Homo sapiens: one gene and its partners. The protein of the gene in region 2 purifies or fractionates together with the protein of the main gene of each other region. This does not show direct contact. Each region holds a gene or a part of one and is shown on either strand. Other genes may lie near its edges.

Region 1 (3,652 bases), on a different chromosome or scaffold from region 2:
CTCCTTTGTCACCGAAATCACAAACGAGCTCAACATTCCCTAGCTAGGAACAGCCCCACTGCTGGAGCAGCCAGTGACCAGCCCCATCGGAACTCTTCCCCACTTCCCTGGAATGTCTCCCCCAGCTATACCTTTGAGCACCTTCCACTGGGCCTCCCAGGCTGCCATTGCAGTTTCCTCTCCCTCCCTGAGAATCCCCATGGGAGAGGAATAACAGAGCATCAGGAAGGCGTTTCAAATAGCATCATGTCACAGGAAGAGTGTTGGCCTGTGGTCAAACACATGCAGATCTGAACTTCAGTTCAACTCCATTTTGAAACCTTGGTCCAATTGACCACTGGGTCTTGGACTCATCATTTGAAAAGTGCAGGTAATGATGCAAACATGGAGTTTTAAGAAGTAAATGATATATGGGATGTCAAGGACAAGGCAGGAGGTCAATAGATGGTAGCTTTCTTTTTCAATTTTTGCTCCTTTTCTCCCCAGCAGAGTTGCTCTTCAAGCTGAAACTTCAGCCCAAATCAACTTTTACTCTCATAATGATGAAAAGGAAACTGGCAGCTGCTTGGGGCATAACAACCAACACATCCTTTGATCTGATCTTTTTCTGCATCCTCACTTCTTTATGACTCCTCCATTACTTAGAGATTGAAGGTATTTTCAAAGTTGTTTTCTCTTTTGCTTTCCTTTTCCTTTTTTTTTTTTTTTTTTGTTGCCATGCCAGTGAGGGTAGTAAAGCTACTTTCATTGCCCTCATTTTATAGGTAAGAATAATGCTGGCTGAGAAGTGAGGTGTCAAAGTCCCTTGTAACACACCTGATACACAGCAGAGTCAGGACTTGCTGAGCCACGGCATTCTGACCCGATTCTAGTGTTCCTTTTCCTATTCCATCTGCATGGGTTCAGAGCCTCCTTGAGGAGCAGCCTTGGGGTATAAATGCCACGGTCAGGTATAAAGCAAGGAGACATCACAGGCCAGATCCTGGGGCATGGGGAGTGACTCCATCCCACTAGGACAAGCAAGAGGACCATGGGCAGGGTCTGGCTTGGGCAGGAGGCTTAGTGACCATGCCTCAGGGACCCTGGCCAGTGATGCCAATCTGAGTGCCAGCCTGTTGTCAAACAGTCATGGTTTTACAGTACATTCCCAGCATTGGGAATTGGCCCCTAACTAAGATCTGCTTGGCATAGTGGAAAGATCATGATTCCAGCCTAAGCTCAGCCACAGTGCAAGCTAGCTAAGCTTGTGCAGATGCCCTCACCTCTCTAACCTCCCATTCCCCATCTACAGACCCCACAGCAGATAGAAAATTAAACAAGAGAATGTGTGAGTGGCTGGAACCTTGAAGGACCTCAGACAATGGCATCTCTCACTACATCATGCAGTAGTTGTATTTCCAGGCCCTGAATTCCCATTAATTACTGCTCTGAAAGTGGGCTTGGGGACAAGGAAAATGTCAGCACCTCCCCTACCTCACAGGTATCACAGACCCTCATAAGCACCACTTGGATGTTTTCAGGGTGGCTTCCTGTCCCATCTTTTAGAAATCTTGCTTTGAAACATCGTCAACTCTAGTTTTCTCCTTGTTGGGCTGTGAGGAAGAATGTAAAGGATTCGGTCATTTCAGATTGTGAAATGGGCTCCTTCTTAATCGGGTTTCTGTAATCCCATGGTCTGAGGAGATTTTCTGGAGTCTGATAAATCTCCTCTTCAACTCACGTCAATGCAATAAGGAGGTTAGTCGAGTACTTACTAGGTAGTGATGTCAAGGTGATGATGAGGGAAATGCCAAATAATGTGGTCAATGACAAGAATTTTTATTTATTCAGCTACAACTCATGGCCATTCTCCTTCCATTCATTTGGTCTAACTCTTGTAACATTCCCTGCAGGTAGAAACTATCATCCCTATTTTACAGATAAGAAAATTGAGGCTCAAATAAATTAAATGATTTGGCCAAGGGCACACAGCTAGTAAGTGGAAGACACATGATTCAAGTTAAGACACGAATGTTCTGGCCCCATCAGATTGATGTGACGACTCCTCCATCACTTGGAGAAGCTCTACTCTTTCCACACACTGCTCACTGGCTCCCAGGATGCTGTTGTTATGAACAAGAATACAGAGAAAGCATTGTTTGTGGGGATTCATTGATAAGTCAATCTGCTCTGAGAGAAGGATTCCTGTCTAAAATAAGTGAGGAATGAGGCTCACAAGGTCAAGTGAGCTGATTGGAGAGGGCCTGGGTAGGAAAGGCTGATATGAAGTTTTTGATTCTCACTGCTTCCTTATTTGTAATGTAAATGATCTGAAATGACCTAAATGTCTCTCAGTCAGGGAGTGTGGCTAAATAAATGATGAGACAGCCATATAGTGGAAGACTGTCTAAGCAGTCAATTTTCTGGAAAAGCAGATCTGTATGTACTTACGTGGAACAATTTCCAAGGCACTGCACTGTGTTTTCCATTTGCCCCAACACCCAGATCAATTCCCCTCCCCTCCCTGCTCTGCTCTATGCCCCGGGAGCATCTCCTGGATGGCAACATGACTTCCTGGTTTACTGGCTTTCACATGGGTGTGACCAGTGTGCACCTCTGCAGCAGGATGGAGGGTGGGAGGAGGGAGGGGTCAGGGCATTTCTTCCCTGCTCCTCCCCCATGTGGGTGCTGTGGCTCTGACACAGCCCAGTCCCTATACGCTTCTGCTGCTGCTCATCAGCCTGCAGTCCATGGCTTCAGTTATCTTTGGACCTTGGTCTCTGATTTCTTCCCCTTTCCCCTTTGGGCATTTGAATCTCTCCAGTTGAACTGCCTGAGTGGAGTTCTGTTGCCTGTCAGGACCCTGACAATGACACAGATATATTATGAACATGGAGGGCACCCCCAGATAGAGACAGCCTCCTACTGACCTCCCAAGAACCTTTCCAATCATCTTCACAATTAACGTCCCCACAAGTCCACCGATGGCGAATATGGACACAGTCACAGACCAGAGCAAAGTCAGAGTGTCTGGGTCTATTGGACGTCCATGCCTTCTTTCCCATGACTCATTGTAAAAGGCCTTGATGTACTGAAAATAAACAACAAACCATGTTATTTCCTTCTGTTCTCTCCTGCTGCTTGAAGCAAGCCAGTGTACAAAACAAAACAGCTTGTACAGAGCATTTTCATGCATAGCACTTTGCTAATTTGTTTGAGCTTTATCTCATTGGCCTCTTCTAACAAATTTTGGGAAGAGCAGAAGATGTTAATCTTTATTATATTCAAATGAGCATTTTTTTTCTTTTATGGCTAGTTTTTTTGTGTTTCTTGCATCTTTGCCTATCCCAAGGTACTTTTTTTGTAACAAAATGTTTCCTCTTTTTACCTCATTTTGGAGATAGGGAAACTGAGGCTCAGGGAGACAAAGTGACTTGCTAGGTAAGTGCTAAACCTGGGAGCTGGACTCAGATCTGACCCCAAGCTTATGATGAGCTTCATAGCTGGGCTTCTCCAATTCTAGTGCACCGCAGCATTGCTGTGGAGGTGTGTTAAAGGGCACATACCGGGTGGGCGCAGAGGCCCACACCTGTAATCCCAGCACTCTGGGAGGCTGAGATGGGTGGGTCACTTGAGGCCAGGAGTTCGAGATCAGTCTGGCCAAGATGGTGAA
Region 2 (3,652 bases):
TATATTTGGTCTAGAGGGCTAGTGATTCTTTTTTTCATAAAAGGAAATTGCATCCAGAGCTAATTGCTCAATCTGAAATGGATCTGGACATTGTTTAGATGTTGGAAAGGAAACGGTAACATTGTAGAGCTTTCACAAAGAGGGGAGCATTATTTTAGAACAAAATTTAAATGGAAATTAATAGGAAATGTAACTCTGTATGGTTTTCAAAGCTTTGATGTGCATAGTCGAAAGAGTATCCCTATTCTGTGCTTTCCTTGACATTTTTCTTGTTTATAAAATGCAATAGGAAATTCATCGGCACAGGCTCAATCCATTCCCATCCATTGATTGCTAGCCAATCAATGACCATTGTAATCTGAAAAAAAGTAACACTGGTTTCTATGACCCTTTCCAAGCACAGCACTGTTTAGCTAAGCTTAATAAAGAGAAAAACAGCAAGGACCATCTGGAAAACACTCTTCCGGAGTCTCGAAAGATAGTGGCAGCCTCTGCCCAACCTGCTATAAATAAGTGTCTCAGAAACAAAACAAAACAAAAAAAACACCCGATTTTCAAATCTGTTTCTACTTAATACAGCTGCAATAGGGTTTATTTAGCTTTTCCCTATAGAAGGAAGACTGTTTGCATTTTTATGACAAGTTCCTAAATGTTTTTCACAGCCATTTCCATTGCCATTATTTTGAGGAACAACATACCACTCAGATCTGTCTGTTTGCTTCTGCACACACAGCGGTGGCCCCAGTGGCCTCTGCACCACGAAACTGGCCTCCAACGCCCAGATTTATGATCCTATTTCCTCTCCCAGTGTTGCAACCATCACCTGAATCCTGGCCTGCAACGGACTGGCAACTTAGAATGTCCAAGTGTCACGTGCTACAAATCAATTATTTATCCGCCTGAGCCCAGCACACTGTGGATCCCTACCAGCTTGTTGCCTCTCTCTTCATGGCGACAAGGAAGACTTCAACTACTCTTCAAGAGATGCTGGAACTCACCAATGAAGTGTCGCTGGCTTGCCAAATCCCTCAATGCTCACCTTTCCATTTTTCCTCACTGGCTAGTATGCAAGGGAATCCTACACATGACACTCTTTGGAAAAGGTCAGCCTACCTTGGATGGCTGCAAAATGAAGTGGCCTATGTTGACTTCTGCACTGAACAACTGCCCCTATCCTTCACCAGCATCCCCTGCTCCCATATCACTCTCAGAGGCTGGCAGGGGAGGGCTAACTGGGGAACACTTTCCCTGTATAATGAGTGATCCACTTCTCTGCCCTCTCCCTGCCCCCCAAACACCCATTCCATTTCCATGTATGGGCAGGGCATGGTTTGCCCGCATGACACCTTCCTTGTGTAAGGCATGACCCTCCTTTCTAGCCTTTCAAGGGACTACCAGAAAGAATATGGCTGAGGGCTTGTCCTGGTGGCAACATTTCATCTGCTGTTGCTGCCTGTAGGCATTACCAGGTGCTAGCTGCCTGAAGGAGAATTGCTTCAAGGAAACAAATGTGTGTAAAAGGAAACAAAATTGCCAGGGGTGATGGGGGCTACCTGAATTTCAATCATTACGAAAAATGATCCATCTACCGAGAAAGTACTGTTGACTTTCTCTCTCAATAGTACTGGAAAACATGGAATTTAGTGGTGGGTAAAGGGCTGCTACAATCTGAAATGAGTCCATTACAATATTACGAGCAGAGCTCTCACAAGTACACTAAATGGCTAAATCAATTGGCTCGGGCTTAAGATGCTACCGGAGAAATGACAGTGGGGAGGGGCTGGGGGTGGGGGAAGATGCCTGCTGACTTTGAAGTCATGCCTGGAATCAGGTGCATATGAAAAAGAAATTAGGGAGGAATAAACCTGTTCTCTTTATGAAAAACCAGAGAAGCCACTAGTTCTTACAATGTGCCCCCCAATCACCTATGACTTATAAAATTGCCTGCCTTGAAAAAGTCTCTATGCTTATACAATCTTATAGACCCTTCCACCAACCTTAGAATTAAATCACGCACATGACCCACTTCCAACCGTTAATTAATCATGCCCATGAATTGTATTTATAAAAGTCAGAGGGGGAAAATTGTGTCTTTTATTATGTCAAATGGAATTTTCCAAAAAAACACAAAGTACTTATTAAATTTTGGTCTAGACAAGTGGTCTTCAACAGGGCTAATTTTGTCCCAGAGGGGACATTTGGCAAGGTCTAGGGTAGGAGGATGTGGTGTTAACGGTATCTAGTGGGTGGAGGCCAGGGATACTGCTGAACATCTTAAGGTGCATGGGACAGTCCCCTGCAACAAACAATTCTCTGGTCTAAAATGTCAACAGGGCCAAGGTGAAGAAACCATGCTCCAGATAAAGCCAAATATGCTTGGCCTTTAACATTCATTTTTTTTTTAAAAAAAGGGAAAGGATCCCATTTTTTTCAAAATCTAAGGCAGGTTTACATATATGTTGACTAACATATTTACTCCTTTTCCATATAAATGAAATAGGTTCTCCATCTGAATCTAGGAACATTAAAGAAATATTGTGATGATGGTGGGGGTAGGTATGGGATATTTTAAATGCATATTTCATCAGTCTAAATGGGTGGAAATTAATATCTCATAAAATAAAATGATTATCTAGTTATGTTCCATACAAAACCAAAATCAATACACTGTATCTTACCTAAACTGCAATTAGAGTTTTAAAAAAACTAAAACAAGGAAATGCTATTCTTTCCCGTTTTTTGCTAGCTGGGCACACACTTCTGAGCATGAGGCATTAAAAAACAAACAGGCAGACAAAAACCTTATTTTTTTAAAAAGACATATTTTTCCAGAGCACAAAAAGCTTCCTGAATCTTTCCTTGTATTTACTGTAGATTCAATCATTCCTTAGTGAGCAAAACATGCAGCCCATTCTCTTGGTTATGCTTGCCTGGCTTTCCAAATGCCCTCAAAACTAGGATGATGAATCACATACTTTGGCCCCATTGTGCCAATTAATAGTAAGCAAAAGAATTCCACACGGCCAAGATAGGACTTTCTGCCTGGTTGTGCATACGGGGGTGGGGAGGGATTCTTCAGCCAATTGCTTTCAGAGAATCTTAAGAACAGGTGTTTCAGTTCCCTAAAATTCCTTTCATCCTAGAACATTCTATGTGGTTCTGCAGTGCCCCCACTTTGGGGATGGGCTTTGATCAGGAAAAACCTATGTTCATACAGTCAGCCTGGAGCTTCCAGGCTTAAAGCACGAAGGAAAGAATGGCTGACAGCTACACCATTTCAACCCTTCCAGGCCTCCATTTCTTTCTCTGAATTATAAGGGAAAAGTGGCCATACACACAAAGGCAAAAATAACAACAACAATAAAAACGCCCAAACACACCCAGTCTTGGCTGCCAGCACGGCCCGATTCTGCTGCTGAAAAAGAACAGTTGCTACAGTGCAGCTGGAGGAGCTTTTCCAGGGAACTGGTAATACCCTGGCTGTTAATGAATTATTTTTCGCCAGAATGTCGGATTCTTCCTGTGCTCCAGTAAACAGTCTGCTTCTGCCATGTGAAACAAAACCAACTCCTTCTGAGGAGCCCAAGGGGGTCAGCCAAGGGTCCCCTGTGAGGGCAGCCCCCTCAGGAGCCAGAGCCACAGGCGCCTGACC
Region 3 (4,247 bases), on a different chromosome or scaffold from region 2:
ACAGGATGATAGTGTCTCTTGCAGACGGTATGCTCTGAGGGTCCAAGGGGATGTTGATAAAGTACTTAGTTGAATAGCTGACTCATGATTAGCAATAAGCTTTTGCTACAGTTTTTACAGATGAAGAAGTTAAGTGATTGGCCTAATGTCACTACCTAGTTACAAGTTAGTTGCAGACAAGCTGGTGGGCTGCAGTGCAAAACTCCTGGTGAGTAAACTATTGTTCACTTTATTTTCCTTTGCTGTCTTTCTGCCTGCCCAGTTAGCTTCGTTTAACATGGCAGCACTTACTCTCTTGGACAATGACCAAGGCTGGGCCTAAGCCTCAGGGGCTCTTCCTCATGACCTGTGGAGAGATCTTTAGGAAAGTCAAATAACTTCTCTAAGAATGGATAGATTCTAAACTCCTTAATTCATATGTTCTATTTGCCTTTGGTTTTTGACCAAACAAGTCACTAAAAAGAGCCTTTGCAAAAGATATCCTATGGGAAATGAAGTTAATAATACCATCTATTTCACTTCATAGTTTCTCACATTTACTGCCTTCTGCACATTTGCGTGACTAATTATCAATATCTGCTAAGTAAAAAGATACATGATGCCTGATACGGTCACCTGATGTCCACCCTCCCAGGAGACCAGCCAACCATCCAAAAGTTGAAACAAAGCCCTCATCCTGTTGCTATGGAATCATTACTGAGCTCCAAGACTAAGCTCTCCTTTCAGTGGGAGACCTTCTATATCTCAGAGCCAGAGAATGTTGCACCTAGCTGTGCTCAATTTCTTTTTGTAGAATAACCATGAAATCCATGCTATTGTCAGCCTAGAGGTTTTGACCTTTGGGCAAAATATTTTGTAGAGAAGGCTAAAGAAATGTGCAGAAAGTTTTCCTAGAAATTATTACAAAATTCCTATCATTATCAGGTTTATTTTTGGAAAAATGGCCTACTAATCCAATGCAGCAGAGAGAAAAATATCTTGAGTATCCCAGAAGTAATGAAAACATACTTAGTAAAATCTATTCCTTTTGCCAAGCCCATAACTCCTCTGATTAAACTGCTATCAAGATAGTGGGAAAGGAAGAAGCAATGAGAAAAAGTAAGAAATAATTTACTATCTCCTTTACCCTAGCAAGCAAAAGTTATTTAACTAAATGAACGACTCATCTATAAATAAAAAAGAGTACACTATTACTACTCTGCAAATCTTTAAAAGCAGATGTTTTCATCTAAGATGGTTGTAGAACAGCTTTACCTCAAGATACATGGATATCCCTCCTCTAAGGACCAAAAATTCTTTTTTAGTGGGATTTGCATGGTATATTTTCAAGAACCTCAGAGCACTGAAGACACTAATTTTTCTCCCCAAACCTCCTGAATGACAAGCATGATTATTAGTTCTATTTTCCAATGAAAAAAAAATCAAGCACTAATAAATTACAGAACAAGTTAACAGGTACCTTCTGACCTGATGCAACAGGAAGTACACAACATTGCCTATGTAGCTTTCTTGCCAAATATATTTATTCTGAATCTAAACATGAGGAAACAATTAGACAAATCTAGATTGCAAGACTTTCTAAAAGACATCTAACCTAGGCTTTGAAAAATGTCTCAAGAACAACAACAAAAAGGGTAGAGGGACATTTTTAGAGAGGCTAAAAAAAACTAAAGAGAATAAAGAGACATGACAACCAATTACAATACATGTTTTTCACTGGATCCTGTATTAGGGGAAAAGTCCACCATGAAGCACTTTTCTGGGGACAATCAGGGGAGATTTGAATATGGTCTCAATATTAGCTATTATATTTATGATAACTCTTGGGGACATGCTAGTGATACAGTGTTTATACAGGGAAATGCCCTTGTTTTTAGGAGATACATGCCTAAATACTTAAGGCAAAAGTATAATAAAATCTGCTACTAATTTTCAAATGGTTTAATAAAGAGAGATGGAAATAGGAGAGACCAAATATGGCAAAATGTCAACAACTGGAGAATATAAGTGAAAGATATACAAATATTCATTCAACATTTCTTTGCCATTCTTTGAGGATTCAATGGGTTTGAAAATTTTCAAATAGCTGGGGGTAAAAATCAGGCAGCAGTTTTGTCTCATCAGTGGAAGCGCAAAAAAGAAAATGAAAGCATATTCCCTCATTCCCAAAGCCCTACCTGAAAGAATAATTTCCAATCCAGTAATTGTGAGTTAAATATTTTAGAGGCAATTTTCTGACTGTAAGGGAGCACTTTATTTGAGGAACGAGTAAAAATAATTGCTTGAATGGAAGAGAGATGTAGGACTTTATTCACCTGATTGGCCCATCCACTTTGGCCTTTTAGAACACAAATGGTTGAGGCTAAATTTCAGAAAACAAAATTTTAATTGATTATTAAAAGTTTTCTGCTCAATATAATCCCCATTAGCATGCCTTATTCCTATGGAGAATATCAGTTGCATAGAATATTAGTTGCTAGAAGGCAGAAATAATAATGATATTTATAAATTACCTGTATAGTATTTAACATAGCACCATACATAAAGATAAACCCTTAATAAAGTGTTCGGTAATTCTGTTAAGGGTGGAAAATATAATAAGCATTTCTTAATCTTCTCTCTCAATCCCAGTTCTCTAACCACTATCATACTCACCTCTAGGCAAAGAAGCAAAAGCTTTTCTGTGTGTTGAATGCATCATTAGGTGAAAAGCGGGTAGGCTAAAAATCAATATGACTACTTACCTTGGTTCCAGTTTTAGACATTTTTGGTGCATAGACTGGTTTTCCCAGTGCTGAAAGAAATTCAGGAATGGCTACAGAGAGTTAGAGGCACAGTGACATTTATATGGGCTGGTTTCAGTCAAACATTTGCTTAGTCATGAGAATAGGATCCAAAAATTGAGTCAGTCATTTAGACGCTATTGATGGTTTCTAGAAAAAACAACTGGGATTATAAAATAAAGGAAAGCTTCAGTACCGCCTTTAATGCTTACCAAGCAGGGCTGCATTACAGACTTTGCTGAGTCAAGAAACCAAAACCCAGACAAAGTTGTAAAAATTAAGAACAAAAGAGTCTCTCTTTTTTTTTTTAAGCAGCCTCTTTGAAATTCCTAATGTCCTTTTTCTTCAACAAAGCTTGTGAGAGGTAAGAGTCAGAAGACTACCTCTATTTCTGGACAGAAGTGACATGTTCTAAACGCAACAAAACTTACATGACAACTAAATGCAATGCATGATCTTGTGTTTGGGGAAAAAAGTCACTATAAAGACACTGCTGGGACAATCAGAAAACATTTTAATATGGACTGTAAATTAGATAATACTATTGTACCAAAGTTTAACTTCTTGAATTTGATCATTGTACTATGACTAGGTAAGAGTATGTCTGTTTCCAGGACATGTATGCTACCATTTAGAAGAAAGGTTCAAGATGTCTGCAACCTATTCTCAAATTGTTGAGCAAAAATAAAACAATACTATCATGTTGAGTGGTAAAGAGAATGTAGCAAAATGTTAACAACTGGTGAATGGAATCTAGATAAAGGGTATGTTAAAGTTCACTGACTTATTCTTGCAACTATTATTTAATTTTTTTCAAAACACAATTTTTTTTAAAAAAAGAGCTCTAATCCATAAGAAGGGTGCCACCGTATGTAGAAAAGTGACTGTGGGACTCCTGAATTTGCCAAGGGTTAGCTAACTAAACACAACAAGCTACTGGCTAGGTGGTCTTCTTTGCCCACAATACAACATTGGAACATGATCGGAGAACATTTTTTGGCCCTAATACACCTCTGACTTTAGGAATGAGATTGCATCTTATGTAAATACAAAAAAACCCAATAAATTAACTTTTCTCCATTTTTAACTTTAACTGATCAAGTATATTCTCAAAATCAAGTATATTCTCAAAAGTCAAACTTCCTCATCTTTCTGTTAACAAAACTAACAAATATTTTAATAAATGGGATGTATTATGGTCAATTCAGAAAATGGCAAATGTGCCTTAATATAAAGATTATTGAGAAAATATTAAGCTATATGCTTGGTTTTCTGAATTTTATAAAATTTTATAAAACTTTAAAACTTTAAAAAAAGTATCTGAGTACCATTTATTTCATTAACAAATAGCAATATCTAAAATATATTTCTATTACTCCAGTGTTTATTTGGTAATGGTCTGCTCCTTGAATTTCATCTTAAAATAAAAACCATGTAAACTTCAATTAGAATTAAACATTCTGA

What was found.
Region 1: the proteins of RAI2 (region 2) and SLC2A9 purify together in Homo sapiens (affinity purification with mass spectrometry; one large-scale study listed by BioGRID and IntAct). This does not show direct contact.
Region 3: the proteins of RAI2 (region 2) and CRYGS purify together in Homo sapiens (affinity purification with mass spectrometry; one large-scale study listed by BioGRID and IntAct). This does not show direct contact.

Annotation. Positions count from the first base shown.
Region 1 is NC_000004.12:9,993,872-9,997,523, forward strand, and holds part of SLC2A9 (solute carrier family 2, facilitated glucose transporter member 9), read right to left. Parts: intron 3,071-3,652; coding exon 2,910-3,070; intron 655-2,909; exon of another isoform or gene 490-654; intron 1-489. UniProt on the Homo sapiens protein: High-capacity urate transporter, which may play a role in the urate reabsorption by proximal tubules. May have a residual high-affinity, low-capacity glucose and fructose transporter activity. Transports urate at rates 45- to 60-fold faster than glucose.
Region 2 is NC_000023.11:17,851,274-17,854,925, forward strand, and holds part of RAI2 (retinoic acid-induced protein 2), read right to left. Parts: intron 1-3,652.
Region 3 is NC_000003.12:186,541,562-186,545,808, forward strand, and holds the start of CRYGS (gamma-crystallin S), read right to left. Parts: upstream 2,820-4,247; 5' UTR 2,766-2,819; coding exon 2,745-2,765; intron 1-2,744. UniProt on the Homo sapiens protein: Crystallins are the dominant structural components of the vertebrate eye lens.